3 separate regions of the Homo sapiens genome follow, and all the other regions are linked to region 1. The links come from fine-mapping of genetic effects on gene expression. A gene starts in region 1. Each other region holds a variant in brackets. All regions are shown on one strand. Distances are from middle to middle. Region 1 holds the start of COA1 (cytochrome c oxidase assembly factor 1). Region 2 overlaps COA1 (cytochrome c oxidase assembly factor 1). Region 3 overlaps STK17A (serine/threonine kinase 17a).

Region 1 (10,332 bases):
AATGTAATACTATTCAGTCTTTAAAAAAATGAAAATTCCAACACATGCCACAACATGAATTAACCTTGAAGACATGCTAAATGAAATAAACCAGACTCAAAAGGACAAATATTTTATGATTCCACTTTTATGAGGACCCTAGAATAGTCACATTCATAGACAGAAAATATAATGGTAGTTGCCAGGGACTGGAAAGAGGGAGGAACGGAGATTTATCATTTAATGGGTGCAGTGTGTGGAGATAAAAGTGCTCTGGGTCGGGCGCAGTGGCGCACGCCTGCAATCCCAGCACTTTGGGAGGCTGAGGTGGGCAGATCACCTGAGGTCGAGAGTTCAAGACCAGCATGACCAACATGGAGAAACCCCGTCTGTACTAAAAATACAAAATTAGCTAGGTGTGGTGGCGCATGCCTGTAATCCCAGCTACTCGGGAGGCTGAGGCAGGAGAATCACTTGAACCCGGGAGGTGGGGGTTGCGGTAAGCTGAGAACACGCCACTGCACTCCAGCCAGGGCAACATGAACGAAACTCCATCTCAAAAAAAAAAAAAGAAAAAGAAAAAAGTGTTCTGGAGATAGATGGTGGTTATGGTTACACAACAATGTTAAAGTACTTAATGGCACTGAACTGTATCTTTACAAATAGTTAAAATGGCCAATTTTATGTTATGTATATTCTATCACAATTTTAAAAAAGAAAAGACAAAACACTGAAACAAGAAACACACAGTTCTAACTGGAATCAAGCCAAGGGGAAAGAATGAAATCTTGGCCATTATATGTAAACAGAGAGATGCAATTTTTTTCTGGAAGCTATTGTATATCACTTTCCTTAGATTCTCAAAATGCTCAGTTTCTAAAAATACTTTTACTACTGGCTGGGCGCAATGGCTCATGCCTATAACCCCAGCACTTTAGGAGGCCGAGGCGGTGGATCACCTGAGGTCAGGAGTTCCAGACCAACCTAGCCAGCATGGTGAAACCCCGTCTCTACTATAAAACAAAAAAATTAGCTGGGCATGGTGGCAGTCACCTGTAATCTCAGCTACTCAGGAGGCTGGGGCAGGAGAATCACTTGAACCCAGGAGGCGGAGGTTGCAGTAAGCCGAGATCGCACCATTGCACTCCAGCCTGGGTACCAAGAGCGAAACTCCATCTCAAAAAATATATATATTATATATATACTATATATATTACTACTACTGCCTTTTAACCAACAAAATTAAAAAAATACAAAACAATGTTAATAGGATTTTATAAAACTACTTTTTCCAACATGCCCCAAACAATACAGAACACAATAGCTACACTCAACCTCTGCATACATTAAATAATCTTCAAATAAATGCCTGCTAGTATGAAAAAAGTACCTACTATTTGGTGACCAACTGTCCAATATGGCTCTCACAAATCTAATGCAGCATATGAAACATGAACAAGAGGATAAAAGAATAACTTCTTGGAGTCTGTTTAAAATAGAGAGTTAAATGAACAAAGTTGAAGCAGATCATGGCACATTTTTCAAGGCAGAGAGACAGGGAGGCAACAATGTCTGAAACAATGAACACTCTTAGGCTAAATATACCACCAGGGACTCAGATGTCACACTAACTGGGAACTACTATGTCAGTTTCTATAACTCCTATAATTAAAGAACAATATCCTAAACTATTAGCCAGAAGGCTTTTAGAGGCAAAGTCCTGACTACACAAAAATGTAAAACAATATAGTAAAAAATATAAAACAAAGTTAACTAAATAGATTGAAAATATCTGCCACATATCTAACAGTCAATGGCTTAAATCCCTACACAAAGAACTCCTAAAAATCAATAAAGACAAAACTCCATACGGAATGGCAAATTATAAAGTTTTTCCTTGCTTCATTTTTCAAGTCTTAAAATGCTCCTCACGGGTTCTTTCACAGCATTTTTCCTGGGCCTGGCCTCCCACGTAGTTGTTGGAAAACCATCACTCTCTAAACCACAGCCACATACCCATAAGGAGGTCTCCAGGGCTACAAAAAATTAATCTCATGTGCTTTTCATTTAAAAGAACGGTAGCATAATCTAAAAGACTATCACATATCTGATAAATGACTTGTATCTAGAATATATAAAGAACTCTTGCAACTCAATTACAAAAAAGAACCTAATTTAAAAATGGGCAGAGGATCTGAGTACACATTTCTCCAAAGAAGATAAATAAATGGGCAATAAGCACTTGAAAAGATGCTCAACATCATTAGCCATCAGGGAAATACGATTTGAAACCATAATATTTTCAAAAAGTTAGGAGATTTTTAATGGTCGCAACACAAAGAAAAGATGAACGTTTCAGGTGGTGGACATACTAATTACCTGATTTGATCACTACACATTGTATACATTTATCAAAATATCACTCTGTAGTCCCTAAATATGTACAATTATTACATGTCAACGAAAAAGAATGAAAACACAATGACACACACTTCACACCCACTGGAATGGCTAGAATCAGAAAGACAGATAATGACAAGTGTTGGCAAGGAGTGAGAAATCAAAACCCTAATACACTACTGGTGCGAATGTTAAAAAGATGCACACTGATGCTTTGGAAAACAGTCTGACCATTTCTTAAAATGTTAAACAGAGCTACCATATGACCCAGCCATTTCACTCCTAGGCACATACGCAAGAGAAATGAAAACATGATGTCCACACAAAAACTTGTAGGTGAATGTTCACAGCAGCATTACACATAATGGCCAAAAGGTGGAAACAATCCAAACGTCCACTAACTAATGGAAAATAAATCGTGGTAATACCCATAAAAGATTAACCAGCAATAAAAAAAAGTACTGACACATGCTATTAAATACAACACAGATGAACATGAATGTTAAGTAAAAGAAGCCAGTTGAAAAAGACCACATGCTGTATGATTTCACTCACATGAATAATCCAGAATAGTCAAATATACAGTCAGTCAATTCATAGTTGCTTAGGGCTTAGAATGGGGAGTGGGGATGGGGAAGTCAGGTGAGCCTGCTGAATAAGTACAGGGTTTCCTTTTGGAGTGATGAAAATGTTCAATTGTTCCAATATGGCTCTCACAAACTGAATGCAGCATATTAAACATGAACAAAAGAATACAAGAATAACTTATTGGAGTCTGTCTGAAATAGAAAATTAAACCAACTAATGAAGGTGAAGAAGATTACAGCATATTTTATGATGATGGTTGTACAACTTTGTGAATGTACTAATGTACTAATTACTTTTAGGTTTTCTTTCTTTTTTTTTTTTTTTGAGATGGAGTCTAGCTCTCTCGCCCAGGCTGGAGTGCAGTGGCGCAATCTCGGCTCACTGCAAGCTCCACCTCCCGGGTTCACACCATCCTCCTGCCTCAGCCTCCCAAGTAGCTGGGACTACAGGCTCCCGCCACCACGCCCGGCTAATTTTTTGTATTTTTAGTGGAGACGGGGTTTCACCGTGTTAGCCAGGACGGTCTTGATCTCCTGACCTCGTGATCCACCCGCCTCGGCCTCCCAAAGTGCTGGGATTACAGGCGTGAGGCACCGCTACGTTTTAAATGGTGAACTCTACGGTAGGTGAACTATGTGTCAGGAAGCTGTTTTATTTTTTTAAAGGACTGAAGACTTTTGTTTTGTGTTTTGTTTTGTTTTCATTTTATCCCGTTTTTAAAACAGTGCCTAGCAATATTATGAATTCAATCGATTTTGGCTAAATGCTAGAACAAAAATTAAAACTTGAGTAAACCATATAAAACTTTGCCATATCTAAAGTTATTAAATTACCGTAGACTGGCATGGTGGGAGCATAATATGAGTGTACCTGCAGGTGTGTTTTCCATGAAAGTAGCAAAGACTGAAAAACTCAGCAGAATCAAGACCCTGTAGGCCCTTGAAGTTAGGCTAAGAAATGTGTATTATCCTGAAAGCAACGGGAAGGCCAGGAAGATTCTGAGGACAGAAATAACACAATCTGATATGCGTTTTAAACGTGCAGGTGTAAGCGGAGAGTTGCTACTTCTATCCAAACGTGAGCCACCTCAGAAATAAAGCAATAGCCCTCCGGGGAGAATGGGGAGGAATCAGGGGAAGACCGGAGAAACAGGTTATCAAATTATCAGAATCTCCATAGATTTTTTTAAATTACACAGCATCCACCCCCAAACACACATACAGACTGATAGGCACTGATATATACATAAATACATCCAATGTCCCCTACACAGAAAATCACTTTTGCAGTCAGCCCCTGTTGGGAGGGTTTTTCTGTTATTCAAGTGTGGTGGGGACAAAAAGTATTATAACCACTAAACCAGGTAATTCTTTCCTACAATAATTTGGGCAGCGTACTCCTCAGGGTGTTGAAATTTAGCACTACCAACAAAAGTGCCCAGTCCCAACTCTTCGAGAGGACCCTAACTCTTTACAGTGTGCTGTTGGGGATGGTCAGCAAAAACTGCAGGACAAGGTCAAGGTTAGCTCGACACAGCCTCCTAACTCCGAGCGGACGGAGCCACTGAAGGTTACCAGGTGCCAAAGAAGCTGCGCAGGGAGGCCGCGACCCGGCGCCGGCGCGAACCTCCGCGATGTGACCCGTGAGGGAACTCTCCAAGAAGCAGCGCACCCCGCGCGCAAAGGCGGCCCCCCGAATTGCAGGAACAAACGCTTCTTGCTGGGGGGAAGACGGAGACTCTTATACCGCGGGAGACTAACCTGTGAGCAACAGAAGCACCACGCTACAAAGAGCATGACGAGTTCTTCCAGGCTTGGGAAAGCACGGGTAAATGCCCGCGGTCCTGCGCGCCAGCGGGGAGCAGTAGAGACTTCCGGCGTCGGCTGCTCGCAGGGCTAGAGCGTCGAACCGGGACAACCGGAGGCTTCAGCTCACCTCGGATTGTAAATGCTAACACGGGTCCTCCGGCCGGCTGATCCAGAACTTAGGTCGCCGGGACGTGTGGCTTCTGCTTCTCAGACGCTCGGACTCGCGCCGGGAAGGGTTTCGCCTCCCCTGGTCCCCGCTTTTTTTTTTTTTTTCTGCGTCCGGTTATTGCAAATGCATTCAGTCCAGTAGCACTAGCCCAGGAAATATAAGCCACCGGCTCACGTTGCTCCTCACAGGTATGCGGCGCTTCCGCTGGCCTCCAAGGACACGAAGCCCCGGGCCGTCTGGCCCCCCACTCTAGCACTGAAATTCCTGCCGCCCCGTTCAGCTGACAAATTTGGCAGCACTAAATTTTATTTTATTCGACAAATTAAGTACCCAGTTAACACCAGGGAGTAACGGGGTAAGAAAATTTCAGAAGGCTGGTGGATAATAATAGCATTTACCTCATAAATTTGTTATGAGGATGTGAAGCACTTAGAGTAGTGTCTGGCAGTTTGTAGGCGCTCAGTAACTGTTAGCTGTTATTATTTTTATATTGATTATTCCATAGTCACCACTATTATCACCTTAATGTCAAGCTTGAAATCCAGTATCTTTCCTCTGCGAAGCCATCACTCCAAGACTAATTAACTTTAGACTGGGGCATTCTTCTTTAAACTCTTGCTCACACATCCCTATCAGAAAAAATATATATATATTTACATGTGTCATGTATGGCATTAATATATTATGCATGCTATAAAACTCACAAGACATCAAACTTTTGATGAGGTAAAAACAATTTTTAAACTTTTTTAAAAACTTCTAACAGAAGTTCTTTTCTTCCTCCACAACAATTAGGTTGCCAAACATACATTCTATCACTCTGGAATCCACTAGCTAAATGAGCACATTATCAAAGCAACCTACCGCTGAATTCTGACTTCCCAGAATGTTTCTTTTCCAAAGAATTAATAGAAACTAATCAGATTGTGAAGTGCTCGGCCATAAGGACTATTTAAATGGTTCTTAGAGAAAAAGAAGAAATAAAATAGGCATCCACTGAGTAATATTCATTGATGCAACATTGATTATTGACTTATTACATTTTCAAAGAGATTGAGGTTATAATACCTTACACCAAGCTTAATATTTCAAAGAATAAATCAACTAATAAAAAGCTTATGAGGTTTGGTATATGTGCATTTCATACAACGTTCATGAAAATGAACCCGAGATCAATTAGCTCCCGTTCTGTACCAGAAAGAGAAATATGTTTACTTTGTAAGTAATAAAACATTAAATAGGCTTTTCTGACCATTTGCTTGAAAACTCAGAACTTAACATTTCTATCACTGGACTTAAATCTGCTAAAGTTTTCGTCTAAATTTTACATTAAAAACAAAACTCTATAGTGAATAATGTTACCTATCCAATATTCATTTTCCTCTAACTCCTTTGTACCAAAATCCTTATTTTATTCAGATAGCTGCCCTGTTCCCAGAATCAAAATGATACTGATTAAACCAGTCATCACACAGAATTTTTTTGTCGTCTAAATTTTACATTAAAAACAAAACTCTATAGTGAATAATGTTACCTATCCAATATTCATTTTCCTCTAACTCCTTTGTACCAAAATCCTTATTTTATTCAGATAGCTGCCCTGTTCCCAGAATCAAAATGATACTGATTAAACCAGTCTTCACACAGAATTTTTTTGGAAATAGTTGCTAATCAAGGAACGAGTATATGACCCAGGTTGGCGCAATCTGACTGAAGGAAAGGACCTCTATTTCATGCTCAGGAGAAAGTTTCTGATATACTGTCCTCTTGACGTCGAAACATCTATCCCACACTGTCATTAGTAGCCATCTTGCCCATCACAAGGAATAAAACTGATGGACCAATGCTGAGGACAACTGAACAAGTTATAAAACAATGTCCTTGGTGACATCATTCCAAACCTGGAGCTCACCCTGTATCTGAATGCCTTGTAGGAATGTCTAATAAGTTTCCTTATTGTTTTTGTTTTCTGTTTTTCTGAGACTGAGTCTCACTCTGTCGCCCAGGCAGGAATGCAGTGGCATGATCTCAGCTCACTGCAACCTCTGCCTCCCGGGTTCAAGCAATTCTCCTGCTTCAGCCTCCCAAGTAGCTGTAACTACAGGCATGCACTGCCACGCCTGGCTAATTTTTGTATTTTTAGTAGAGAAGGGGTTTCACCATGTTGGCCAGGCTTCTCTTGAACTCCTGACCTCAGTGATCCACCCACCTTGGCCTCCCAGAGTGCTGGGATCCTTACTGTTTTCTGATAGAGATGCCATAAAGATTAAATGGGTTAAAATAGTGCTGGTCATATTGTAAGTATTTTAAGTGCTTAATAAATTTTAGTTATTATTAACTCACCTTAAGTCAGGGATTCTGTTTCTTATAGCCAAAATTACCCATCAAAATACACATTCTACCTCTCTTTTTCTATATATTTAAAGAAAGGGTCTGTTTTGATACTTTTAAACTAAGGAGCCAGGGAAGGGGTAGGAGGTGAAGAGAGGAGGGGCTGACTATAATGCTGTATGAGGGCTACTGTTAAGTGGTTAAATGGCTGCTTTGAGATTCACTCAAGAGCAGCAGGATCCTATAACTATCAAATCTGAATGAGGTTACTACACATCGTAGTTGTATGTATACATGAAAGTATCATTTCCTGCATATTAATATTGTGATCCACTGCCTTACTAAGTTGCTTTATTGTTTGGAGTTCATTCTGGTAGAATTTCTAAGATTGCAATCTTATCATTGAAATAGTTTTACCTACTTCTTTCCAAGTTTTATACCTCTACTTTCTCATATCTAATTGTTTTGGCTAGTATCTCCAGTAAAATATTTAATAATAATAATGACAGTAGACTTTTATGTCTTATTCCTATCTTTAATGAGATATCTTTAGAATTTTCCCATTAAGCATGATGCTGGTTTTAAGGACTGAAGTAGACATCTTTTATCATGTTAAGGAACTATCCACCTATTGAGAGAAAGAAGAAAATTTTGGCATAAGAGCTTTGAGAAAACAAAGCATTGAGCGTGCCATAATGTCCTGTCATAAAAATAAGTAAAAGTTAGACAGTATTTACCTCAAAGACACTGAGAAAATTAACATTAGCTAGGTTGGTATGAATGTCCTTTCTTGCTTATCTTACTACCAGCATGAAATTCAGTCCTGCCTAGTTTGTTTACAAGAAATTCACCTGTGATATCCTGATTTTTAACCCTGAAAAAGTTATTTATCTCTTACAATATGTCCTGTTTAATGTAAAGTTAATGCTTGCTCTACATGTTTTTTGTTTTTTGCTTTTGTGTTTGCTTTTACATGTACTCCAAGCACATGCTCTACATGTTTGTTATAGGAAATAATGTGCACCTCCTATAATTTTGTTATAGGAAATTGTAGCTGTTCAAATATGCTGATTGCAAAAAATAAAGGACATTTTATAATAATTGGGTTAGATCATCAAGAAGATATAACAGTCTTAAATTTGTATGAATCTGGCCAGGCGCAGTGGCTCACGCCTGTAATCCCAGCACTGTGGGAGGCTAAGGCAGGCGGATCACGAGGTCAGGAGTTCGAGACCAGTGTGACCAACATAGTGAAACCCCATCTCTACTAAAAATACAAAAATTGGCCAGGCGTCGTGGTGCGCATCTGTAATCCCATCTACTCAGGAGGCTGAGGCAGTAGAATCGCTTGAACCTGGGAGGCAGAGGTTGCAGTGAGCCGAGATCGTGCCACTGCACTCCAGCCTGGGCAACAGAGCGAGACTCCGTCTCAAAATAAAAAAAATTGTTTGGAACTAATAGCAGAGCTTCAATAAATGTGAAGCAAAGACTGACAGGACAATTCAAAAAATTGGAAATTGTAGGCTGGGTGCGGTGGTTCACACCTGTAGTCCCAGCACTTTGAGAGGCCAAGGTGGACGGATCGCGAGGTCAGGAGTTCAAGACCAGCCTGACCAACAGGGTGAAACCCTGTCTCTTCTAAAAATACAAAAATCGGCCTGGCATGATGGCGTGCACCTGTAATCCCAGCTACTCAGGAGGCTGAGGCAGGAGAATTGCTTGAACCCAGGAGGTAGAGGTTGCAGTGAGCCGAGATTGCAGCACTGCACTCCAGCCTGGGTGACAGAGTGAGACTCCATCTAAAAAAAAGAAGAAAAAAGAAAAGAAAAATTGAAAATTGTAGTGGAGATTTTAACATTCATCTCTCAGCAATTAATAGAAAAACTAGACCAAAAAATCAGTAAGTGCATAAAAAACTGGAGCAACACTATTAACCAACTTGACCTGTTTAATATTTATAGAACACTCCATAAATAGCTAAATGCACCTTTTAAGTGTGTAGAATATTTTTATGCCAGTTCATAAACATTGATAAACTTAAATACATTGAAATTGTATAAAGTTTTTTGTCTTACCATAATTATAAATTAGTAACAGATATCTGGAAAACACAAATATTTTGAAATTAAGTAACACACTTCTTTTGAAATTAAGTATACATTTTGACTCATGGGTCAAAGAAGTAATGGTAAAGGAAACAGGCGTATTTTGAAGTGAATAAAAATAAAAATATATATCAAAAGGCATTGAATGCAGTTAAAGTAGTGCTTTAGAGAGGAAAATTATAGCATTGCATTCTTAATATAAGGAATAAAAATATAAGAAAAGAAAAAGTATAAGTTAAATTATTTTAGCTTCCACTTTAAGAAATTGGGGGGAAAATTAAAAATAATAGAAAATGAAATAATAAAGATAATTTTGGAAATCAATTAAGTAAAAGAGCTAGTTCTTTTTTCAGTTTATTTATTTTTGAGATGAAGTCTTGCTATGTTTCCTAGGCTGGTCACAAACTTCTGGGCTCAAGCAATCCTCCCACCTCAGTCTTTGGAGTAGCTGGGGATTACAGGCACTCAACACTGCACCCAGCTAAAAAAGCTGGTTTTTTTAAAAGACCTGTAGGGTCTAGCCCTACGGGGCTTAGCGGGTGTTCTCCCCATGTGCGGAGACAAGAGATTGTAATAAATAAAGACACAAGACAAAGAGATAAAGAGAAAGCAGCTGGGCCCGGGGGACCACTACCATCAAGATGCGGAGACCGGTAGTGGCCCTGAACGGCTGGGCTCGCTGATATTTATTGCATACAAGACAAGGGGGCAGGGTAAGGAGGGTGAATCTTCTAAGTGGTTGACAACGTGAAGCAAGTCACATGATCATAGGACAGGGGGCCCTTCCCTCTTAGGTAGCCAAAGCAGAGAGAGAGAGAAGGCAGCATACGTCAGCGTTTTCTTCTATGCACTTATAAGAAAGATCAAAGACTTTAAGACTTTCACTATTTCTTCTACTGCTATCTACTACGAACTTCAAAGAGGAACCAGGAGTATGGGAGGAACATCAAAG
Region 2 (10,332 bases), 49 kb before region 1:
CAACATGGCACATGTATACATATGTAACAAACCTGCACATTGTGCACATGTACCCTAAAACTTAAAGTATAATAATAATAAAATAAAAAAAGAGTAAGTGTAAATCCACCCTAATTTGTAGCATAGAGGTATATTAATTACAAACTTTAATTTTTACATGTAACAAATTACCTGCTAAACACCTGAGGACCATTCACTACTCTGAATTGTAGAGAGATGTCAAGATTACACTTTGAAGGGAAAAAAGGTGCTACTGGTTCAAGAGAACTTACATTAAAAAATCTTATCAAGGGATCCTATACTGAATTCTAACATCTAACATCTAATTCTAACACTAGATTAACATCTAAGCCAGATGTTAATCAATGGCTCACTTGTACTATTTAAATAAAAGAATTATGGTATTATTCTGATTCCTTTAATATTAAGAGACCCTTAACAGACCCCTAAAAATTACTACCCATCGGTGATAACTGCTTCTTATTCTCACTTATGGGAATCCTATCCCTGCTCCCTCATAAACAAAGTAGCTACTAATAAAGAAATCTCGTAAAAGAAATACAACTTAAAACATTAAATTTAAAATGTTAGCAGCATACCATTTTAAGAAAGTACGATTAGTATCCACTTTGTTTTCAAAATTTTAAAAATAGGAAAGTTGCCCCTCCATCAACCTAATTAAACATGATTAAATAGGTGACATTTTAAATAGAAGACCTAAGCCTTACAGATTTCCTACTGGGTGAAAAACTTACAAACAATAAAAAGAAATAAGGTTTACTGCAGCACTATTCACAATAGCCAAGATATGGAATCAACCTAGTGTCCAACAACAGAATAATGGGTAAAGAAAATGTGGTATATATACGCAATAGAATACTATTCAGCCACAAAAAAAGAATGAAATCCTGTCATTCACAGCAACACAGATGGAACTAGAAGACATTAAGTGCAATAGGCTAGGACAGAAAGTTCACCACCACATCTTCACTCATGTGCAGAAGCTAAAAAAAGTTGATCTCATATAAGTAAAAAGTAGAACAGAAGATTCTAGTGTTCTAGTGTTCTAAAGCACAGTAGGATGATTATAGGTAACATAATATATAGTTTCAAACAGCAAAAAAGAGGATACTGAATGTTCCCAACAAAAAGAAATGATGTGTTTTAGATGATGGATATGCTAATTACCATGGCTTGATCATTACACATTGTACACATGTATCAAAATATCACATTGTACCCCATAAATATGTACAATTAATATGTGTCAATTTAAAAAAAAAAACTTCAGAACACATCCAAAGTTGGCTGAAAAAAATAACTGAAAATTTTAAACTATATGGTCAATGGTAGCAAAGAGAATTTATCACTAAGAATTGTGTAAGAAAGCTCTACACTCTTAAAATAATAGAGGTACAGTATGCATTAGTATTTTTTCTAGCTTAATTTATTTATGATACTATGGTTGTCCTTGCCAACTGTTAAGTCCCCTTGGGGTGGGTCTCTTCATCCTTTGTACGATGCCTAACAGATCAAAATGCTTAATGTTCCACTTTCTTGGCCTTAAGAATTCTTTGCTTTCTATATGTTTTTCTTGTAAGCATTTTCAGATTTCTCATGTTGAATATTAGAAGAAAGTTCATGGAAATACTATAGAGAAAAATACTCAATTCTTTCTAAACATAACTTTTACAGCATTGGTAAAGAAACTGTGGAGTCTTTAAAAACTACATTATTCCTCAACAAATGCTCTTTTAAAACATCTGGGAAAGAAACCCATTTCAGTTAACAACATAAAAGGAAGGACAAACTCTAACACCGTTTATTTAATATATGTGGTGTATGAACTTATTTAATGACCAAAAAAGGAAAAATTATTATTTAGTAAGTTTTGGGATAATAAAACAGAGGTTTGCCAAATAAAAGAGAGAAACAGGAATGCTTTAATGATTCCCATATCCTTGACAAAAAATTGTATCTTTGTTCTGTAGCTGGGCTCAGTGGCTCACGCCTGTAATCCCAGCACTTTGGGAGGCCAAGAAGGGTGGATCACCTGAAGTCAGGAGTTCGAAATCAGCCTGGCCAACATGGTGAAACCCCACCTCTACTAAAAATACAAAAATTAGCTGGGTGTGGTGGTGCATGCCTGTAATCTCAGCTACTCAGGAGGCTGAGGCAAGAGAATCGCTTGAATCTAGGAGAAGGAGGTTGCAGTGAGCCAAGATCATATACCACTGCACTCTAGCCTGGGTGAGAAAGGGAGGCTCTGTCTTAAAAAAAAAAAAAAAAAAAAAAAAATTGTAATTTGCTCCTCTAACAAGTCTTTTAATACTTAAAAAGGTTTATAATCTAAGATGAAATTCAGCCTACTGAATTTAGTTATACAAAATATATACATATATAGATACAGATATGTGCTAATGAGCTGTACCTTTTTCCCATGAAAATTGCAACCAAACAGTATTTAAAAACTAACAACACTGACTACAGGCAATTTCCCTCCTAGAGGATTCAGGTAGCACATGTGTTCTCATCAAGTTGATTTGAAACACTAAATTTTTCCTATTACTAATAACAGTGAGTTGGGTTTGAGAGATGAACCTTCCTGTTGAAAACAACTTAGTAATTTGTATAAAGTATTTTAAAACATCTTTTCAAAAGAACTGAAAAATTACAAGATAGTAAGAAATTACCAAGTAAAAACTAAAAAGAGAATTCAACAAATAACACTGGGAAAATAAATATCCACATGCAAAAGTATGAAGTTGGACCCTTAGCTTACAACATACACAAAAATTAACTCAAAATGGATCAAATACATAAACATTAGGGCTAAAAGTATAACACTCTTAGAAGAAAACATATGGGGAAAGTTCTGTCACATTTGATTTGGCAATGATTACTTGGATATGATATCAAAAGCACAAGCAGCAAAAGAACAAAATAGACAAAACTGGACTACATCGAAACTGAAAACACTATCAACAGAGTTAAAAGGCAACCCACAGTACTGGAAAAAATATTTGCAACTCACACATCTGATAATGGACTACTATATAGAATATATAAAGAACTCCTAAAATTCAACAACAAAAAATAGGCAAATTCAAAAATGGGAAGAGGATTTGAACAGATGTTTTTTCAAAGAAGATATGAAATGGCCAATAGGCATATGAAAAGATGCTCAACATCATCAGAAAAACACAAATCAAAACCACAATAAGACACCACTACTTCACACCCATTAGAATGGCAATTATTTAAAAAAAAATAGAAAATAACAAATGTTGGCTAGAATGTGGAGAAACTGTAACCATTATGGCATTACTGGTGAGAATATAACATGGTGCAGCTGCTGTGGAAAATATGGCAGTTCCTCAAAAAATTAAACACAGAATTACCATATGATCCACCAATTCCACCTTTAAGTCAAAGAAAAATCAAAAGGAAAATTTATAAGTATCTTGAGGGCCAGGCGTGGTGGCTCACGCCTGTAATCCCAACACTTCTGAAGGCCAAGGCGGGTTGATTACTTGAGGTCAGGAGGTCGAGACCAGCCTGGCCAACATGGTGAAACCCCATACAAAAAATTAGCTGGGCATGGTGGCGTGCGCCTGTAGTCCCAGCTACTGGGGAGGCTGAGGCAGGAGAATCACTTGAACTCGGGAGGCGGAGGTTGCAGTGAGCCGGGATCGCAGCACTGTGCTCCAGCCTGGGCAAGAGCTAAACTCCATTGCAAAAAAAAAAAAAAAAAAAAAATGCTAAATTTTATGTTATATTTTACCACAAAAAAAAAAGTACAAGGAGAATGAAAACTCAGCATGAAAAGCAAGTTCTGAAACCACATTTCCTCTAAAGTATCTTTATTGGTCATGGGAAACTAGAACCTATGTTTTAAAAGATTCTCAGGGTGACCAAGATAGAAATAAAGCTGAGGGCCACACAACAAGGGCCATCTAATCTGAGATTCTCCTCACAATAAACTGGAATCCTAAAGGGGCACATCCTCACAGTGAGAATGACATGAACTAGATTATGGTCTAACATCACACTGCTTTTCTCAAACTTCAAACTTGGGTCTGTAATCATCCCCTGGACTAGAATACTCCCAAGTTTCGGTCAGACACAAGTGCACACTGTCTAAGTACCTACGCTGTGGACTTAAAATCAGTCTTATAAATAATTCTTCAAATGCAATATCCAGGCCCCAGTCAAGGATAGTGGAGTATGCAAGAAATGTAGGAATAAGAAGCAGCAGAAAGGAAAAGGGGTCAGGAAAGAACCTTAGAAAGTGGATTATCAGATGCAGATTCTATGTGTTTTCTGTGACAGAAGAAATAAAATGACAGGTTGGAAACATTTAGCAGAGAACTAAACACTATAAATAGTAACAGATTTCTAAAAGAAAAAATAGAGACTCTAGAACTAAAAATAAAATATAACTCCAACTAAGAACTGAATGGAAAGGTTTAACAGATTAGATTCACCTTCAGAGATAATAAATAATGGAAAGACAAAAGACAAGTCTAGAGATATGCTGGAAGTAGTTTGAATAAGCTTTCAAGAACCAATTATGTGTAGCTCTTCCTAATTCTGCATCAGTAAAGTCAAATTGGTTGCCTGAAACTACCCTTGATAAGGATATTTATACTATGGAAATCAACAAATGCTACAAATCAGGGCTTCTTTTTCCCCGGAGAGCCATTTCACCAGCACACACTTGGAAGTTACCATACAGAATTTGGGACAGGGAGACAAAAAAAAAAAAAAAAAAAGTAAGTAGGGAGGAGAGCATAAGAAATGTAAAGGGTATAAAAGAGGGCCCAAAACGTCTTTAATTAAAGTTTCAAAAACTGAATAGAGAAAAGAAACACTTTATCAGTTAGTGGCTTTTTCCAGAACTAATTACCAAATCATAGATTTAAGAAGCCAAATGAATGCATTGCAGGATAAATAAAAAGAAATCTGCAATGAAGTAAGACTGACTTCTATATCATTAGAGTAGCCTATGTGTTTTTAAATCTATGAGTTTTTCCCTTTATCTCCAAAAATTATAAATGCTACCAGAATTGAGACAGACAGAGATTTATTTTCATTAATTTTGCCTACAATAAGCCTACGCTGTGGAACTACAGCTTCAGAACTTTTCAGCTGAAGTGGCTGGGCCATGGTGGCTCACACCTGTAATCCCAGCACTGTGAGGGGCAGAGGCAGGAGAATCACTTGAGCCCAGGAGTTCGAGACCAGCCTGGGCAACATGGCAAAACCCCATCTCTACAAAAAATACAAAAGAATTAGCCAAGTATGGTGGCGTGTGCCTGTAGTTGCAGCTACTCGGGAGGCTGAGATGGGAAGATGGTTTAAGCCCAGGAAGCAGAGGTTGCAGTGAGCAAAGATTGCCCCATTACACTCCAGCCTGGGCAATATAGTGAGACCCTGTCTCTGGGGAGGGGGGTACTTTTCAGCTCAAGAAAGTTTCCTTCTGCTTTTATATTTTGCTTCTGTTCCATTTATTCTGGTTTCTCCATTAGGAACTTATTCATCAGTATGGCACTTCTCTGTCTTCAGTATCTGTCATTTTTACCCTCATCATTTCTGTCATTTTTTTCTCCTCCTAAAAAAATCTCAAATAAATACTATAGGATTGACCCATTCATCGTATATAGGATTGACTCCATTTTCTGCAGGATCAGCTCTGCTATGTGCAACTGCCATTACAGATTTTGGCTATTGCATTTTTAGATTGTTGTCACTGTTTTCTTTTGGTCATCTTTATTCCAGCTCCTTTTAAAATCTCATTCTGATTTTTTGTTATA[A/T]CTTTGTTTTGGTTTCCTAGAGGTCATATTTTTTGCTCTGTTACTAAGAATAAAATCTGACACTTCTCACAAATATCTTTTGTACATCGTAATAAATCATATTCAATATTATTTTTAAGATTTTCTTCCGCATCTTTGGGGAAATGGTTCCCTTCTTTTACGGAGATATCTTTCACACAGATTTCTTTCATAGTCCCCATGAAAATCATCCTTGCAAAAATAAGGTACAATTTTTAATGGCAGGGTATTGTAGACTGCCCTTGATTCCCATCACTATCAATGTGGATGGTGAAAATTTGCTCACACTTAATTTGGTTAGGTTTTAAGTGTACAGGCTGACACACACAGTCCATGGCTGAATTTATAGTACTAAGCAGGCAGTACAACCAAGTTGGGCTGATTTAAAATCTATTATTCCTTTCTTCTCATATTATGAGAATTCATTCCTACATCAACAGGAACATTCTGTAGTTTGTCTTTTAACAGAAAATAAATGATAACCTGAAAACCCAAAAGCACACTCCTTTTAAGGTTCTTCTTAACACCACATCTACTGCTACATCACATCCCTGGAATGTAATATCCTAACACCTTCTTTTCATTCTCTTCCATATTGCACATTGGAAATTTAGTCTCTGAATAGATGTATAAAAAATAGTGTGGAACGTGCGGGTTTGGAAGAGTTGGGAGAGAGAAAAATCTCTAAGGAGGTTAATGGGCTTTTAATATGTAATAAAATACATAATATGAACGAAATAGTGCAAGTTCCCATAGTCATTCATGGTAACCCATGTCTCCAAGGTATGAACAACAGGAATAGATCAAAGCCTCTTCCTACCCACTTCCCACGTTAATCTCCTGTTTTAGAAGTCAAACCATAAACAGACCACTAAGACTTTCTTAGTCTACTCCAATGTAGTAAGTAGTTAGTAGAAACAACTTTAAAACTGAGAAATTATTGATCACTACTTTTCTCAATGCCATTATGGAACTATACGCATATTTTAATGAGAAACTGGAAGAAAGCATATCATACATGGCTAGCCTAAAGTAAATATTTTTCAATAGGTACATTTTTTAAACAAAGAAGTTGATATTGATCTCTGTTTGAACATGGTCAACTAAAATGTCACGGTGACAGGTACTATTACAGAAAGTGAAGTAATCCGAATTCTTTCACAACAGAAAGATGAAAATTGAGACATAATTATTGTAAACATCTGAAAAGTATAAATGTCTATAATGATTTTATACATAATGATATAAACACTGATTTCTTCTCCACATCACTTAAAGTTTGAACATGACATTTTAGGATGATTTTTTTTAAAGTTCTACTCTATCGAGTAAACACAGAATTTGTCATTCTAGATAATCAAGGAAATGACAAATGCATTTCAAAAGCATTTAATTCATAGGTAGCTATAAACAGGCAAGCAAGGAAAGCCAAGGTTATTTTGAGGAGACAGCCTACCTATACAAGCTGATAGTTTGTTTTTTGGGGTTTTTTGTTTGTTTGTTTTTGAGACACAGTCTTGCTCTGTCGCCCAGGCTGGAGTGCAATGGCACGATCTTGGCTCACTGCAACCTCTGCCTCCCAAATTCTAGTGATCTTGTGCCTCAGCCTCCTGAATAGCTGGGTTTACAGGTGCCCACCGCCACGCCTGGCTAATTTTTGTAGAGATGGGGTTTTTAGTAGAGATGGGGTTTCACCATGTTGGCCAGGCTGGTCTCAAATTCCTGACCTCAAGTGATCTGCCAGCTTCGGCCTCCCAAAGTGCTAGGATTACAGGCATGAACCACCATGCCCAGCCACCAACTGATACTCTTGAGAACAATTATCAGAATCGTTAACTCCTCAAATGTGGAAAATAACTTCAAATTAAGAAAAGTCATATAGTTGTGTTTTTTTTCCTTTTTACATATCATAATGATCATTTCATTAGTAAAGTAACCCTGAGCTCACTATTTTTAACATAACTATGCTCCCAAAAACATTTAGTAGTTGGCCAGGCACAGTGGCTCACGCCTGTAATCGCAGCACTTTGGGTGGCCGAGGCAGGTGGATCACGAGGTCAGGAGATCAAGACCATCCTGGCTAACACGGTGAAACCTCATCTCTACTAAAAAAATACAAAAAGTTAGCCAGGCATGGTGGCAGGCACCTGTAGTCCCAGCTACTCGGGAGTCTGAGGCAGGAGAATGGCATGAACCTGGGAGGTGAAGTTTGCAGTGAGTCAAGATTGCGCCACTGCACTCCAGCCTGGGCGACAGAGCGAGACTCTGTCTCAAAAAAAAAACATTTAATAGTCTAATGAATTTCTCTCAGTAAGTAGTTCAAATTTAGTACCTTTACTATGTGCCAGGTACTGTTTTAAGTGCTTTACACATACTAACTCATTTCTCTGAAGAAGTACTATTATTATCACCATTTTAAAGATTGGAAACTAGGGGACACAAAAGTCAAGAATTTGCCAAAGTTTTTATTCTTGCTGCATAAGAAAGTCACCAAAATGCAACTTGAAAAAACAGTTTTATCATACGCATGAATTCTGTGGGTCAGTAATTTAGAGCAAACACAAAGGTAAGGAACAATGTTTGAGGTCACAACTGAAAAGACACAACAATTAGGGATGACTCAATGGGACCGGAATCATTTGAGGAAATCACTTACATGTGCGATTGTTGATGCTACTGTCGGCTAGAATCTAAACTGGAGCTGTCAACTAGGGCAGCAGTCTCCATCCATTTTGACACTGGGACCAGTTTCAAGAAAGGTAATTTTTTTTCCACAGAGGAGGCAGGGGGATGGTTTTGGGATAAAACCTTCCACCTCAGATCATCAGGCATTAGATTCTCATAAGGAGCACTCAAACTACATCCCTCATATGCACAGCTCACAACAGGGTTCGCACTCCTATAAGAATTCAATATAGCTGCTGATCTAACAGGAGGCAGAGCTCACCTCCTGCTGTGCGGCCGGGAGTGGGTGAATGGGATTGGGGACCCCTGAACTAGGGTCCTACATATAGCCTTTCTCTGTAGCCTGAGCTTTCTTCACAGCATTGCAGCTTCAGAATAGCCAAGCATCATACATGGCAGCACAGAGATCCAAAAGCAAGTGTCCCAGAAAACAAGGTGAAGGCTGCACTGCCTTTTCTGACTTAGCCTCAGTCATCGTGCATTACTTTCACCATATTCTATTGGTCATAATCTAGTTGTGGCTAGTCGTGAGCCAGTGCAAATTCAAGAGGAAAGGATAGAGACCCCTCTTCTCAATGAAGGCTATAAAGAGCAAGGGGTTGAAAGTGGAAAATAACATGTCTGGAAAGTACAAGACGCCACCATCTTATAGCAAAGATTCACAGTGCATGCTCTTAACTACCATACTTGACTGCTTGCTCAAAAAGTGGCACACTCTATAGTACATAAGAACAACACTCTTGACCAGATCTGACACTTTTGGGGTAGCCTGAAATACCATTCAGAATCTGAAATAGGCAATGGGACCCCAGAGAGACAGACTGAGCTCTGAAGAAACTTTAGACTTTATTATCTTCACATTCATCTCCCTCTGAAGCCATCAGTGAAGAGAGTGAGAGATTCTCTACCAAGAAAAACAAGGCTAGTTTTTCTAGCAGTGAAAACTAGCTCACTAGTTAGTGAGCAGTGGCTCACACCTGTAATGCCAATACTTTGGGAAACCGAGGCAGAAGGATCACTTGAGCCCAGGAGTTTGAGGCTGCAGTGATTCATAATTGCACCATTATAATCCAGCAGCCTGGGCAACAGAACAAGACTCCCATCTCTTAAAAAAAAAAAAAAAAAAGGAAAAGAATAAATAAAATGTGTGTCTCTTATAACCTCTCCACCATGGTCATTTCCAGTAGTGGCAAATTCCATCACAAAAATCATTGTAAATGCTCTGGAAGAGGCAAAGGGGTGCCCTATAGACATCCTACTCTCAAACTTGACTTCTCACCATCATCTGGTGTCCAACATTACAGATCCAACCCAAATGAGATTTTAATTTCTGACGTGTCATTAAAACATCTACAACACAAGATCTACATGCTTTACATATATATCAACAATTTTCTCATATCAGAAGGAAAGCTGCAATTCTAGGAGCAAGTTTCCAGAATCTTTTGGTTTGCGGTGGGGTGGGTAGGGAAAGTTGGGGAGCTATTCCAAACAAATATTAATTGATTATATCACAAGTACTTAATCAAAACTTACTGCTAATTCTTCTGCTGATTTCAAATGATTTGGAAAGACTAGAGTAGAATTGAGAGAGCTGGAGAATCAGGCTATGAAGACCCTCTCCAGTGTTAAATCTGTCAGAATCAGAGTCCTGGAACAAACCCAGACAAAAGCAAGGTACAAACTGTCTCACCAAATTAACACCACAACCTTCATTAGCAGCCAAGAAGACTGATGTTTTTTAAGTGGTAGGGTTATTAATTGGGTTGTGAACAAATACCTCCCCATTAAGAGTTCCTCCAAACACTACTGT
Region 3 (10,332 bases), 110 kb before region 1:
CTTATGATGGACTTCCAGGAAGAGAACCCCAATTTAAATAGCATTGCACCTATAGGAAATGAGCTTTCAGCTTATGACAGTTGAACCTGTGACTATTCAAGAACTAATTAAGTAGCAAGTCAAACAGGTTGTCAGCACCATGTGTCATGGATCTTTGATGTTACTTGAGAGCATCAAAGGTGAATATTAAGTTCTTGAATACCAACTTTAAGTGTGTATTTACACAAGGAAATTATATCCCTTTCTCCTCAGTATATTCAGTATCAATCATATTCCTTTCTCTCTAATACACTTGGTTTAGAATTCTTTCCAGATTCAGTAGAGGCCTTGATGACGATGACAGGCCTTTGATGTTGGAAACTGGACTCTCCATGTTTCCTCGACCCAGAGGAACTAGAAGACAAAGTGGTCCAAAGGGTTCTCAGCCTTCCTTCTGCCTTCATGCCCCTCCATGTGCAGTCAGACATGTCTCTGAGTCAACTACTGGAGGGAGAGGATAGAGATGGGGTTGGTATGGCAACCATGCATGCGGGAGTGATTTCTACTAAAAGGTCATTTCCAATTGGCCTCTGTGAGTCTGGATGAAGTGAGTCTGCTGTCCTCTGTCTTCGACAGTGTGTGCTCATAATGTTGACTCTTGGTCTCTAGAAGCGTTTGAAAGACTAGGCTATTTTTTAAGAAATTATTTTCCCACATTGCCTCAAAGCTAAATATATTATGTTTTCATTCTCTAAAAACTGATAATCCCAATATGTATGGTAATTTTGAATTATTAGGCTATTTAGTCTCCATGCTGGTTAAAATGGGAAACTCCTGTCCCTGTGACAGAAGTTAGTTGGAAGTTAAAACAACTGTTATAGTTGCTTCTATTAAGGATATAATTGACGCTATGGGAAATACACTGCTTAGCTTTGGTGCAGAGCCTGAATGATCAATTTGCCAAAAGACTGATTCACTGAAGACTGTCAGCCAAATATCTTAAATAGAGCTGGGAAAGTTCTTGGGGTGGGGGAGGGAGTAGCAGATGCAGATTTAGGAGTCTGTAAAAGTATGAGTCCATACAGCCACAAAAATAGAAAAGACAAGCCATGATTAAGAGAAAACCCATTCGTTTAATATATAAAATGTTGCAGAAATTGCAAATCTGAGAAACAACAACCCTGGCAAAGTCAGAACAAAACCAACTAAAAGTACCCAAACAGTCTCAATAATTTGGTGAATTAGTCATTCAGTACAGCGGCCTGGTTTTAGTCCTGTCAGAGGGAGGGAGGACTGACTAAAAATAGCACAAAGAAATCTGGTCTTAAAATCTATTGCTCTTTTTTCTTCAAATGGTGTTGTACTGGTTCAGTCTTTCAGCAGTGTTAGTACAGTCAGCCCTCTGCATCCATGGATTCAACCAACCACAGGTTGAAAATATTCAGGGTGCAAAAATTCCACAAAGTTCCAAAAAGCTAAACTTGAATTGGCCCCCCACCAAGTATTTCATTGAATCCACACAAATGAGGTGATGTGTGGTATTATAATAGCTATTCTGAGTAACCTAGAGATGATTTAAAGTTTACAGGAGGATGTGCTTAGGTTATATGCAAATACTGTACCATTTCCTATCAGGAACTTGAGCATCACAGATTTTGGTATCTGCAAGGAGTCCCTGAACCAATCCCCACTGATACCATGGGACAACTATACTAGGATTCTATCACTAACTTTTCCACCCAGTTATGCTCATGGTTAAAAGTAGACTAGAAGAAGGCCAGGTGTGGTGGCTCACACCTGTAATCCCAGCACTTTGGGAGGCTGAGGTAGAAGGACCACATGAGCCCAGGAGTTTGAGACCAGCCCAGGCAACATAGTGAGACCTCATCTCCACAAAAAATTAAAAAAATCAGCCAGCCATGGTGGCACGCGCCTTTAGTCCCAGCTACAGAGGAAGCTGAGGTGGGAGGATTGCCTGAGCTCAGGAGTTCGAGGCTGCAGTGGGCTATGATTGCACCCTGCATTCCAGCCTGGGGAACAGAGTGAGATCCTGTCTCAAAAACTTTTTTATTAAAACATTAATTTCTAAAAATTAATTTCAAAAAAAGTAGCCAGAAGCTGGGACTTTCCATATGAGATTTAAATTTGAGCATCAGTATATTACTTGAAAGCAGGGGTAATAAAAACATTCCTAAACAGTCCCCCAAATTAATTTAGATGGGATTATTAACCTATTTCTCTACTCTAACCTGGGTTTTAATAGTTAATATACTAGAACTTTAATTGTCTGATAAAATGTTCCTTAAAACCCTGCCCATGACACCCTAAGCCTTATTGAGCAGGTTAACCTCAACTTTACAATGATCTTAGCCGCCAAATCTTCTCCAGTGGTGATTGTTCAGTAAACGTTAAATGGATTATGTACAAAGATGAAGATACCGAGATAAATAAAAGACTTCCCTACAGCCACCATCTATTTACGGACCGTCTGCAGGTTTTCTGCCTATTCCACTGTTATCACCTCTCTATTGATTGACCTTGCTTCTTTCTCTCCCTTACTACCTGGGATTCATATATTTTAAATAGAACTAGATTTTGTGTGCCACAACTTCTTTATAATGAACTGGATTCCCTAGAAAGGAAGTTTAACTAAATTGTAAATGCTGAGGTACTTAGCTTTGTTTTCAGGACATGTATTTCGGCTTATTGGAAGTAGATATATTTCACCATCGAAGAACTAACAGAGCTTATAGTCCTGTAATTGTATATATATTTTATTTAGAGAAGCAAAGTCTATTTTTAAAAATAGCCCTGTGGTCAAAATTGGGCACAGTTAGTTGGTAAAGGCCACATAATAAATATTAACTGAAATCCCATGAAATAGCTCTGATTTTATGAGAAATGTGTTTATTCTAGCAACCTCTCTCTCAGTTGTTTAACTTCATTTTTAGAAAGTCTCTCACATTGGTGTATCATAGATGCATGTAACAGGGCCTAGACTTCTCATACAATAAGATTTTAATAATTTGATCACACTGATTTAGGATTTACAACATTACCACCAAACCAATTAGTTTTTGCATAGTAACTAAAGAAAGCATTTCTCAGGGAATATAAAGTGTAAATACATAAAAGGGAAAAACATTTAAACTATTTTAAGGGAACAAATGGTATTTAAGAACATTCATAGAATGTACATGTTTACTAATCACAAGAAAATCTCAAGATTTGGTGAAGATTTTCCCTAGCAGTATTTCACCTGGCATTTTGCGTGTACTCAAAAGGGCAAAACATTCAATTATGAATATGTATCACTGAACCAAAGCCCTCCTATCAAATTTGCCTGAATAATAAGACATTTTGTGGTTACTATAGTTTTTGTTTTGTTTTTTGTTTGTTTGTTTGTTTTTGATAGGGTCGTATTCTGTTACCCAGATTGGAGTGCAGTGGCACTATCTCGGCTCACTGCAACCTCTGCCTCCCAGGCTCAAGTGATCCTCCCACCTCGGCCTCCCAAGTAGCTGGGACTACAGGTGTACACCACCATGCCTGGCTAATTTTTTGTATTTTTGGTGGAGACAGGTTTTCATCATGTTGCCCAGGCTGGTCTCGAACTCCTAAGCTCAAACAATCCACTCACCTCGGCCTCCCAAATTGCTGGAATTACAGATGTGAGCCACTGCGCCCAGCCCTTTTGTTGTACTATAGTATTTTATTAACATACGAAAACTAAAATTGCCTTGAAAAGTCTGAGGACTCATAGTCATGATGGTACATAGGTGTTTTTTTCGTGAAGAATTAGCTAGAAGCTAATTAACAAAGAAAACGTGGCCTGCCTTCTGCCATTTACTCCAGAATAGCCTACAAAGCCCTGTGATCTCCTAGCCATTTCCTTTCCAACCTCATGCCTCCCACCACTCGTACCCCTTTTGCCTTGTGCTGTCGTCCAGCCACACAGGATTTCCTGCAGATGCTCCACAGCAGTACGGCCTCTATACTTCTCTTCCCTCTGCCTGGAATGCTTCCTGCTTACTCCAACCCCTCCAGGACACTGAGCTGTGACTGGCTCTTTTTTAACATTGTCCTCTCCTCCCTCAGGTTGCCTTCTTAGAGAGGCCTTCTCTGACTCCCCTAAAGATAACATGCCCATGCACACACCCCAAGCAACCACTCTCGCCCATCACCCTGCTTTGAGTTCCCCATAGTGCTTAAAGCGACCTGAGGTGTACTTATTTGTCTTAAGATGCAGGGCTCCAAAAGAGAGGACTGGTGTCTTGTTTTCTGTTATTTCCCCAGGGCCTAGCTCATTAGGCAATCAATAAATATTTGTTGAAAAAATGAGGAAATCTTTTTACCCTTCAGGGTCTGCTCACATATCTCCTCTGTAATTTTCCAGGGCAGAATTAATCACTCTGATATATTTATCGCCTGAGCACTTTGTATATATTGCTTTCATGGTGCAATTCACAGAAGAGTGACTTGAGCCTGGCAGGTTCATCTATTTTCTCTTGATTATAAACTCTGACAGTAGGGCGTTCTTATTGCTAATATTTATACTACCACTAGTCCTAACACAAAATAGACACCCTGTTAATTTTTTTATAGTTATGTTTCTTCCATTCATTCACCCAACAAATATAAATGTGTGGTAGGCACTGATCACAGTGACAAAAGAGTAATCAGTACTGTGGCTTCTGTCCTCATGAAGCTGTAGATTCTTCCCGTTCTCTGAATTCAGACTGATAAACCTACGGGCATTTTCATAATAGAAAAGGGTAGGAAGGATGGTTGGATAGAAGGTAAGACCCTTTTTAAAAAGAGGGACCGTCTGGCCGGGCGCGGTGGCTCACGCCTGTAATCCCAGCACTTTGGGAGGCTGAGACGGGCGGATCACGAGGTCAGGAGATCGAGACCATCCTGGCTAACACGGTGAAACCCCGTCTCTACTAAAAATACAAAAAATTAGCCGGGCGTGGTGGCGGGCTCCTGTAGTCCCAGCTACTCGGGAGGCTGAGGCAGGAGAATGGCCTGAACCTGGGAGGTGGAGCTTGCAGTAAGCCGAGATCGCGCCACTGCACTCCAGCCTGGGCAAAAGAGTGAGACTCCGTCTCAAAAAA[G/A]GAGGGACCATCTATGCCTCAATTTCGTTTTTCATATTGTAGCCCCTCTCATCTATGGAAATTGTTGTAATCTGCTTCACTACCATCTTAGGCCTTCTCACCAAGTTGAGACTAGGCAAAGAAGAACAGAAAAAAGCGTTCTAGACTGAGGGAATACCATATACAAATTCACTCTTGTGAGAGGGAGCATGGCAAGTATGAGACTGGAAAGTGTCCCGTGGGACCCAGCTTCATGGAGCCGGGGGATCATGGCATATGATGAGTCTGGAGAGCTAGTTAGGCAGAAGCTGGACCTCAGGACATGCACACCATGCGAAGGAGTTTGGAGGTTACCTAAGAGCAATGGGAGGCTGTGGAAGGGTTTAGGAAAGGGGACAACAGATCCAATTTATATAATACAAAAGAACCTTCTGGCTTCAATGTGGGCAAAACAGATCCTAGCAAACCTTTGAAGAGGCCATTGCAATAGAGCAAGAAAGGTAGCTTTAATTTTCCGTAGATGGAGAGAAATAGGCAAAGTCTAGAAATGCTTGGAATTTAGTATTTAAAATCAACTATGGTGACATGTTAGCTAAATGGAAGAGCGGGGAGGAAAGGAATGGCCAAGATGATTGTTAGTGTTCTCTCCTATTCTGAGGGATGATCATAGCATTCACTGAGACGCCTGTCATTGGCATAGGGAGAATATGATTTAGGAAGGAAAATAGGAGTCTGTTTTTGGTCATGTTGAATTTGAGGTACCTTTGAGACATCAAAGGGGAGATAATAGGTAAGCAGCTGGTTGAAGAGGTCTGAAAGAGAGAAAAACATTGTGAGTCTTAAGGTGTAGGTGATATTTAAGCCTTGGGTGCAGATCATGCAAGCTGAGAGTTTGGAGTAAAAAGAGGAAAGGCCTCAAGATCAAGCCTTGAGAAACCCAGCATCCAGTGGACCAGGTAAAAGAAGGTGGCCCATCAGAGGAGATGGAAGACACAGCCAGAGATAGGAAGAAAGCCAGGACAGTGTTTTGTCATGGGAGCCAAGAGAAAGATAACATATAAACAAGGAAGGAGTGGTTAACTTTGTCAAACACTGCTAAGGGAGGGGTCCAGAAAAAAGCATTGAAGAATATCACTGGATTTTGTGATTTGTAGTGGAATGAGAGGACAGAAGTCAGATGGAGGGGCAGAATATGAATGGAAGGAAAGGAAATGTGAACATTCATTCTATACATCTAGAGGACCAATGTGATGGAGACAGAAACAAACAGCTAACAGAACAATAGAGTAAGCATGCTGTGTACACCATGCTGTGGAGCAGGGACGGGGCAGCCATTAAGCCCTCCCTGGAAGGAGCAGGGGAGGCCAGGGCAGGCTTTACAGAGGAATTGGTTCTTTATTGAGACCCATCATGCATGGAATGAGGGATGAGAATAAATCTGTCAGGCAGAAAAGGGGAGAGGGCGTCCTGAACAAAGGCAGTACGTGTGTAAAGGCATGAGATGTGGGAGTAGCTGTGTTATTTAGGGATTACAGACTGTTTGATTTGGAGCACAGATTGCCTTTGGAGCCGTGACAGATTAATCTTGAAAAGGAAGCAGGGGCCCAATCTTAAAACACTGGGTGTTAGAGTGAAGTATTTGTAATTTACCAGTGTTTCTCAGCTTACCTTTGGAAATATTCTTAATGGCAGAAAACATTAAGTGAGGACCCTTTATAATGCAAGCACAAACTTTCCTTTCAAATTTCGTGTTTTAAAAATTTAATGAATTTTACATTCTAGTCCATAATATATTTGCTTGTCTTTTTATGTGAAAGTATCTTAGGTTATTTTCCACTGGGTAAAAATGACTCCATGGATATGAACCTCACTGATTCTGTGGCTCTGGGGAGCTCTTTCCCATTACTGTACATGTCCTCACCCCACATATCCCCACTCACAAGTCCAGAGAGAACTTAGGGTAGAAGTCATCAGTATGTAAGTGGCAGCTGAAGCTTTGGAAGTAGATGAAATCGCTCCAAAATAGAATGCAGAGTGGTGGGAGAAGAGGGCCATGCAGCGAGAGATCCTGAACAACACAAATATTTAAAAGGAGGACAGAAGGAAAACATTGAGAAAATTGTGAGGGATCTGTAGAAGAAGGAAGAGACCCAAGGTGGAGAAAATGGGGAGGAATTTCAACAATACAAGGATGCTTGACAGTGCCCAGTGCTACAGAAATCATTGCATGCAAAATAGTCCCTGAAAGACACAGACGGGATTTGGTGGGTCTTTGATTATTGAAGTTATTGTGACCTTAATGAAGGCAGATTCAGTCAAGGGGTCAGAAGAGATTTAGTTGCACTGAGAAAACAATACCAATTGTGCTTGACCATGCTTTCAAGAAGCTGAGCTTTGAGGGAATAGTAGGAGCAAGCGTGCTGCATGCAAGGAGATTCAGGATCATGGGGAATGGTTTCCATAAGGTAGGGATAGAAACATATTTATATGCTGAGGAAGAGCCAGAGTAGGGGAAGAGATTGAAAATACAAGAGAGTACAGGCCTGCTGCCTTATACATAGGCAATAAATTGTAAAAATATTTCTTTAACAAATGACTGTTTACTGTTAAATTCCTCAGTCTCAGTTTCATAGGTGAAATATGTTTTATGGGCTGCATGTTTTGTGTACTTAATCATAGTTATATTGATTTTTGCGGGGGTGTATTTTCTTTTAGCCTCAGAATATTCTGTTGACAAGTGAATCTCCATTGGGTGACATTAAGATTGTTGATTTTGGCCTTTCAAGAATATTGAAGAACAGTGAAGAGCTCCGAGAAATTATGGGTACCCCTGAATATGTGGGTAAGTATTCATAAAAGTAGTTTTGTTCTGGGGTCAGGCATCACCTTCATTAGGGGACTTGTCCATGTGGCATGACTCATAGTGGAGCCAGCTATCTACTATGTTGAAATTCTACCATCAGAGATCTATTCCTTTGGATTACATTTTACAATGGAAAACGTTCAAGAGTAAGATACCAAATTGGTGATCTCTTCACTATCTCTTCACTACAGAGCTAAGAGAATTTGAAGGGATTACTTCTAAAAGGAATAGGAGAGGATTTTCTTAACAAAGTAGGATATTAGCTTATCTGAGGGTGGGAGGATATTTAACAAGTAAGGACCTTTAAGGATGTTCTGGTTGATAACAAACATTGACAAAGGAATTGCCAAGTCTGAGGCTCCATAGAAGTGTGGAGCAGAGAGGGCATTTGGTTGGATCCATGGTTGAGTGCTTCTGGCAGAAAGAAAAAGGAGCTTAAACATTGAAGGTAGCAGCAAGAAAGCAGCTGAATGATGATACTCCATGGGTGTAGGCGTATCATCAAAGAAGTCAACTATTACTTTCTTTGATAGACTGAGGAAAATTGGAGTTTGAAAGATTAATAGTTTGATGGTCTTTTTAAGGTATCTGTAGAATAAGGCTGTGAAACTGAGAGGTTGTGACCAGAGATTAGATTATTAATATTTAGGCCAAGTGCAGTGGCTCACGCCTGTAATCCCAGCACTTTGGGAGGCCAAGGTGGGCAGATCACTTGAGGCCAGGAATCTGAGACCAGCCTGGCCAACATGGCAAAACCCGTCTCTACTAAAAATACAAAAATTAGCCAGGCGTGATGGTGTGCACTTGTAGTCCCAGCTACTCGGGAGGCTGAGGCAGGAGAATGGCGTGAACCTGGGAGGCGGAGCTTGCAGTGAGCCAAGATCGTGCCACTGCACTCCAGCCTGGGCGACAGAGTGAGACTCCGTCTCAAAAAAAAAAAAAAGAATATTAATATTTAAAATTTCAGTGGTGAAATAGCTCTTTGTAATTATGAGGCCTTGGATATAAGGCTGGAAAGGCAGTTTTTTAGACCAGGAAATCAAGAAGCTGTGAAGGTAGGCTGTCTGGGTCATGGACATCAGTGTGGAAGTCACCTAGGCTGCCAGCAGACCTGGGAGAAGAGGAGGGCGGCCGTGGCAGGAATGGAGAAGGCTGTGGCCTGGGCCTGAGGGAAGACTCTGTGCCTGAGGGTAGAAGTGTGAAGTGAGCAAATACAGGCTAGAAGAGGGGGAATGAAGAGAGCAGGGTCTCCTTTCAGAGAAGAGGGTAAAAGGAGTGTGTAGTTCTTGAAGGACTGAGGATGTTACAAGAAAAGAGCTATCCGGAGCACAGAAAGACTCAGGAGGGCCGATAGGGTTGAAGAAAACAAACCTGTATGGCAATGATAGTTCAAAAAATAATTCAGAGATTTTTTAAAAGATCCTTAGTTAATTAGATAATAAAAGATGCCACAGGCACAGAAACAACCTTTAAAATTTTTTATATATTTTAATGGGCCAGAATACTTAATTTTCAGTACACTGACTAATATGCGTCATGACCACTAAGTTAGTTTTGGGGATGTGACTTAATAGTGTTTCTTTAGGGAAAACAGCAACCCAAGTGTTTTAGCCAAATTTAATGGGTACCATTGTAAGCTCAAATACACAAGACTGCAGAATGTAGGTCTGTGAGCTGAAAAATCAAAATAGTAATTATTGCCCTGAATGAGGTGGGTTTTTGTTTTGTTTTAATGCTTTCTTTGTTGTTGTTTGAGAGAGTCTCACTCTGCCACCCAGGCTGGAATGCAGTGGCACCATCATAGCTTCCTGCAGCTCCCAACTTGAGCTCCTCCTGCCTCAGCCTCCCGAGTAGCTGGGACCACAGGCACGTGCCAGCACAGCGGGCCAGTTTTTTGTTTGTTTTTTTGGTAAAGATGGGTCTCACTGTGTTGCCCAGGCTAGTGATTTGTTTTAGAGCTTTCTGTTCCTTAGTAAATTTTAAATTTTCTATCAAGAGCCTTTCCCCATCTCAAAACATTATAATGGAAGTACAAGCTCAATCCAAAAAGAAAAAAACTAAAAATGATTCAAAAGTACATAATACAGAAAAACAAAGGGACTCTCCTCTTTTTCCTTCCGTGACTCACCTTTTAAAAGGTGAGTTTATGCCTCCCACAGTCATTTTACATACACACAGAAACTGGTGTGAGTTCTGGCCCTGTACTTGCCATCTATGTGACCTTGGCCCTTAAATCTCTTTATACCTCAGATTCCTCTGTCCATAAAAAGGGGCTAGTAATAGTACCGACCTCATAGGGAATTTGTAAGGATTTCATTGGATTTGCTGTACAAAGCCCTTAAACCAGTATTCAGCACATAATAAGCACTCAAAAAAGTAAGCTATTGGTATTTC

What was found. PIP is the estimated chance that this variant, and not a neighbour inherited with it, causes the effect.
Region 2: its variant is fine-mapped to the expression of COA1 in whole blood (INTERVAL, PIP 0.99).
Region 3: its variant is fine-mapped to the expression of COA1 in blood mononuclear cells (TOPMed, PIP above 0.99).

Annotation. Positions count from the first base shown.
Region 1 is chr7:43,724,702-43,735,033 of GRCh38, forward strand. It overlaps COA1 (cytochrome c oxidase assembly factor 1), which reads right to left and starts at 4,822. Exons shown (of 6, transcript NM_018224.4): 1 at 4,728-4,822. RefSeq lists enhancers at 4,108-4,837, 4,838-5,566, 4,933-5,132.
Region 2 is chr7:43,675,528-43,685,859 of GRCh38, forward strand. The region is part of intron 1 of COA1 (cytochrome c oxidase assembly factor 1); the gene reads right to left. Among named protein-coding and RNA genes, the nearest start is that of COA1, 49 kb to the right of the region's middle. The variant A/T (reference allele first, on the strand shown) is at 5,817.
Region 3 is chr7:43,611,807-43,622,138 of GRCh38, forward strand. STK17A (serine/threonine kinase 17a) reads left to right here. Exons shown (of 7, transcript NM_004760.3): 4 at 7,791-7,917. It also overlaps a transcript of COA1 not described here. Among named protein-coding and RNA genes, the nearest start is that of STK17A, 34 kb to the left of the region's middle. The variant G/A (reference allele first, on the strand shown) is at 5,097.